Regions from separate parts of the Homo sapiens genome. Here region 1 is linked to region 2. Evidence: fine-mapped expression QTL. Tissue or cell type: testis. Region 2 holds a variant in brackets; the other region holds the start of a gene. All regions are shown on one strand. Distances are between the middles of the regions.

Region 1 (2,602 bases), 190 kb before region 2:
CTGGAAGTCCATCCCCCTGCCGCCCCCACCTGTTCCTACTGGCCAGGGGGCCCTTCCCCCTCAGCACCTTCGGGTGCTAAGACTGACTGTCCTCTCAGTCCCTTGCAGCCTTCTCATCCTTCCTGACACCATGTGAGCTGGAAGCTTGTTCCATCTCCTCACTCGCTTTGGGTCCATCCCCAAACCAGACCTGTGTTGGCAGGGCTGAACCTGTCTATCATCCCGGCCATATCCCTGTGTCCACTGCCCAAAGGCCTGGCGCATAGCAGGTGCTCACTAAACACTCCTCAAGCACATGAACCGAGGTGCGTGTTCCTGTCCCATTTTACATGCAATGAAACGCCAGGTCCAGATGCTCCGAGGGATGGGGGATGAACACCCATCTCCACCCACGGGCGCATCACGCCCGCCAGTCCCACTGAGCCAAGTGGCTGCAGGTGAACCTGGCAGGTGCGCCTATGACTCACCTCCCTAGGTGCCAAATCCCCAGGGCAGGCCGCACCCGCCCACACCCCAATTAGCAGCTCCTTGTGAGGCAACAGAAAGCGGGCCCCGGGGCTCCAGGCCCAGCCTCCCCCATATCTGCTTCTCCCTCCGGGAGATCTCTATCTAAGCTGCTAAGACCTGGAGATCCAAAGCGACCCCAGGCCCTACCCCCGGGCAGGCCAGTCAGGCGGGAAGCGGAGCCGTGGTCCAACTGCAAGGGTCCCCAAGCCCAGGCCCGTGTCCCCTCCCCTATCTTCACCCGGAGTTGGGGCGGGGCAGCCCTGCCCAGCCCAGGCCCGGATGCCACTTTCTCCGCGGGCACCCACGGGCACCCCGCCTTTGCCCGCGTCGTGCGCCTAACGGTGAAGGGGACCCAGCCCCAGGCCCGCGACCCCCGCCCCGGAGCCCGGGTCCCGCCGCCGCCGCCGCCGCCGCCCCACCCCGCCGGCCCCGGGCCCAGACGCGCGAACGGGCCCGCCTCCCGGGCTCCCGCGGGCCCCCAGGCCAGCCCGACCTCTTTCGAGCTCCTCCAGGACGTAGGTGAGGAGCCCCGGGCTCCCGAACTCGCTGCCCACCACGAGGAGCAGTGAGCTCGGAGCCGCGGCAGCCCCAGATCCAGCCACCGCCGCCATCTTCGGGCCGCCCCGGCGTTCTCGGCGCCCGCCCCGCAGGCCCCGCCTCTTAAAGGGGCCGCACCGGAAGGGCTGAAGACCCCGCCCGGAACCACCGCATCCCCGCCCCTTTTTGTCGACCACTTACAGGCCCTTTGAGGTCGTGGAGAGCAGGGGATGCGGGCGTTAAAGGGGTTGGCCGACTCCTGGGTGTCCGCTTGGGAGCCGCCTCTCCCAAGTGACCATTCATTCATTTTTTTTTTCATTGAACAAGCTTTGATTGCGTGCCTGCTGCATGTAGGTCAGAACTCCTGCCCTCCAGGAACTCACATCACATGACAGTAGGCCGCATCAGAACCCGGTGCCTATGGATGCTCCCAGCTCTCTAGGTCAGGGCTTGAACAGAGAAAAGAAATCTATCTTGTAGGTAGGGCTTTAAGGGATGTGTAGGAGTTTGCCTTGTGGGTGGTGGGGCAAGAGCTGGTGAGGCAGAAGTTTACAGCAGGTGCAAAGTTTTAGAGGTAAGAAAGTACATGTGTGTTTGGGACACAACCGGAGCACTCTGGGCCTGCCTGGAACAGGGCAACACTTATTCTGCACCTCCTGTGCGCCAGGTATTTTATTGCATTAGCTCATTACATACAAGCACAAAGCGATGAGTTTTGTGCTTGTATGTAGGCACAGATGAGTAGGCACAGTTACTGTGGTCACTTTCAGAGGAAAGAAGAGGAAACTGAGATTTGGAGGGATGAAGTCACCAGGCCTGTAAGTGGTAGAGCAGGTTTGAACCCAAGTGGGTCTTACTCTAGATCCAGCCTGTGCAAGGGACTGCCTGCGTTGCGCACATGGGTACCTCTCTCTCCCCAGATAATCCTCTTTAGGCTTTTCTTTCCTTTCCTCCCCTCTCTTCTCCTCTCCTCCCCTCCCCTCCTCTCCTCTTCTCCCCTCCCCTCCCCTTCTCTCCCCTCTCCTCTCCTCTCCTCCCCTCCCCTCCCTTCCTCTCCCTCCCCTCCCCTCCCCTCCTCTCCCCTCTCCTCTCCTCTCCTTTCCTTTTCTTGAGATGGAGTCTCATTCTGCCGCCCAGGCTGGAGTGCAATGGCACAATCTCAGCTCACTGCAACCTCTGCCTCCCGGGTTCAAGCGATTCCCTTGCCTCAGCCTCCCAAGTAGCGGGATTATAGGTGTCCGCCACCATGCCCTGCTAATTTTTGTATTTTAGTAGAGATGAGGTTTCTTTTCTTTTCTTTTCTTTTCTTTTCTTTTCTTTTCTTTTCTTTTCTTTTCTTTTAGAGACAGAGTCTCGCTCTGTCGCCCAGGCTGAAGGGTAGTGGCGCGATCTCGGCTCACTGCAAGCTCCACCTCCCAGGTTCATGCCATTCTCCTGCCTCAGCCTCCCGAGTAGCTGGGACTACAGGCGCCCGCCACTGTGCCCAGCTAATTTTTTGTATTTTCAGTAGAGACGGGGTTTCACCGTGGTCTCGATCTCCTGACCTCGTGATCTGCCT
Region 2 (2,755 bases):
GTTTTGAGCAGCATCAACATCTCAGCAGACTACATTTTTGTGTCCTTTGACAGCAAGATAGCTTTTAGGTGAAGCAGAGGGTGCAATTCTAGCTCTGCCCTTGACTGTGTGACAATCCTCAGCCTCAATGTCCTTATCTGTGAAATGGGGTAGTTAGTGATGGGCCTGCCTGCTGGGCAGACTTTATGAGATAGTGCAAGCCCAATGCTGAGTTATTTGCCAGGCACATGCCTGGAATTGGAATTGTTCCTTCTCTAATTTCTTTTCTTTTCTTTTTTTTTTTTTTTTTGAGATGGAGTCTTGCTCTGTCACCCTGGCTGGAGTGCAGTGGCGCGATCTCGGCTCACTGCAAGCTCTGCCTCCCGGGTTCACGCCATTCTCCTGCCTCAGCCTCCTGAGTAGTTGGGACTACAGGTGCCCGCCACCACAACTGGCTAATTTTTTGTATTTTTAGTAGAGATGGGGTTTCACCATGTTAGCCAGGATGGTCTTGATCTCCTGACTTCATGATCTGCCCGCCTCAGCCTCCCAAAGTGCTGGGATTACAGGCGTGAGCCACCACGCCCGGCCTACCTTTTGTATTTTTAGTAGAGACAGGGTTTCACCATATTGGTCAGGCTGGCCTCATGAGGTCTCCTCCTGACCTCAGGTGATCCACCTGCCTTGGTCCCCCAAAGTGCTCGGATTACAGGCGCATGTCATTACACCGGCTAATTTTTGTATTTTTAGTAGAGACGAGGTTTCACCACGTTGGCCAGGCTAGTCTCGAACTCCTGACCTCAAGTGATCCGCCCACCTCGGCCTCCCAAAGTGGTGGGATTATAGGCATGAGCCACCGTGCCCAGCCTATTGTTTTTAATTGTTTTTGTTGTTGTTTTTGGAGATGGGGTTTCAGTCTATTGCCCAGGCTGGAGTGCAGTGGGGCAATCTCGGCTCACTGCCACCACCTCCCAGGCTTAAGCGATCCTCCCGCCTCAGCCTCCCGAGTAGCTGGGACTACAGGCATGAGACAGTGCACCCATCCCAGATTTTACTGTTTTTATCCTTTGCTATTCTGATTCTGGTCCCATGACCTAACTCTCCCCCTCACCCTTGCAAGAGTGGGTGTTTGTTTGTTTGTTTGTTTGTTTGTTTTCCAGAGTAGGGATGCTCACCCGTAGCAACGCTGCCCCCGGGAGACACTTGGCAATGCTGGAGACATTGGTGGTTGTCGCACCCAGGGTGGGGGCTGCTGCAGGCAGGGAGTGGGTGGAAGCCAGGGATGCTGCTTACTGCCCTGCTGTACACGGGACGCCCCCACCGCAGAGAATGATCTGGCCCCACATGTTAATGATGCTGGGGTGGAGAAACCTGTTCCTGGGAACCCCGGGACCCTTACCCAAGGATTCAGGGCAGAGAGCATCCAAAAGGCGGAGATATTCTCGCTGGGAAGTCAGGAGCGTGTATCCTGTCAGGGCTGTTGAGCCAAGGCAGTGGCCCCCGTTTTCATATTCCTACAAAAGGTACCCAGAGAACCAACCTGGGACAGGTCTGAACTGTGGCTTCTGTGTCCCAACTATACCATCAAGGGAAGATTTCAGATGAGCT[G/A]AAAAATCCTCTGCCCCTCCCACCCCTCCCTCCCTCTCCTTTCCTCCATTCCTCCCTCTCTCTTTTTTTTTTTTTTTGTTTTTGAGACAGAGTCTCACTCTGTCACCCAGGCTGGAGTGCGATGGCGCGATCTCAGCTCACCGCAACCTCCACCTCCCAAGTTCAAGTGATTCTTCCACCTCAGCCTCCCGAGTAGCTGGGATTACAGGCACCCGCCACCACAGCAGGCTAATTTTTGTATTTTTAATTGAGACGGGGTTTCGCCATGTTGCCCAGGCTGGTCTTGAACTCCTGACCTCAGGTGATCCACTTGCCTTGGTCTCCCAAAGTGTTGGCATTACAGGCCTGAGCCACCGTGCCTGGCCCTAGGTTTTGTATTTTTAGTAGAGACGGAGTTTCACCATGTTGGCCAGGCTGTTCTTGAACTCCTGGGCTGAAGGGATCTATTTGCCTCAGCCTCCCAAAGGGCTGGGATTATAGGCGTGAGCCACGAGGCCCGGCTCTCCCTCCCTTTTTTTTTCCTCCTCTCTCCCTCCATCCATCCTACCTCTGCCCCCATAACTTTCTCCCTTCCTCCCTCCTGTTCTTGCCCTCTCTCTCCCTCCTTCCCTTTCCCCTTTCCCTCCCTTCCTCCCTCAGTCCCTGAGCTCCCAGCACCCACGGGCTCCCCACGTGCCGGTCCGGTCCCAAGTGCTGTCTGAGGACCCTCTTGTTGAACCCTCAAAGCCCTACATGGTGTGAAACATCCCATTTCACAGAAGTGGAAACTGAGTTTCAGAAAGGTAGTGATCGCTCCAAGCTCCCCAGCCAGAAAGCAGAGCGGCCAGAGGTGTGACTTGCAAAGGCCCCAAGAGGTTGAAACCACAGCTCTGATACTGACCACGACCCTATCCCTGGCCTGGGCCTCAGTTTACCCACCCAGCACAGCAGGGGATGGGACGAGATGGTTGCCTACAACAGGCCAAACACATAGGGGCACAAGATTCATCCTGGGTGATTGATAGAGGTGGGGCTATGCTGAGATATGGATCCCACAAACCTTGAGGCTGACGGGGGTGGGAAGGAGGGACCCAGAAGTAGAAAGGCCACGTGCCAATCACGCACCTCCTTGTGGCTGAACCACTCTAGGCGGCCGTCCCCACGCAGAACACAGAAGATCGGCTGCCAC

What was found. PIP is the estimated chance that this variant, and not a neighbour inherited with it, causes the effect.
Region 1: MAP1S starts here. The variant in region 2 is fine-mapped to the expression of MAP1S in testis (GTEx, PIP 0.98).

The regions. Positions count from the first base shown.
Region 1 is chr19:17,718,019-17,720,620 of GRCh38, reverse strand. It overlaps MAP1S (microtubule associated protein 1S), which reads right to left and starts at 1,141. Exons shown (of 7, transcript NM_018174.6): 1 at 1,001-1,141. The coding sequence starts at 1,118. RefSeq lists enhancers at 1-99, 490-559 and a silencer at 910-959.
Region 2 is chr19:17,532,325-17,535,079 of GRCh38, reverse strand. It overlaps NIBAN3 (niban apoptosis regulator 3), which reads right to left. Exons shown (of 15, transcript NM_001321827.2): 3 at 2,692-2,755; 4 at 1,379-1,493. Among named protein-coding and RNA genes, the nearest start is that of NIBAN3, 6.4 kb to the right of the region's middle. The variant G/A (reference allele first, on the strand shown) is at 1,588.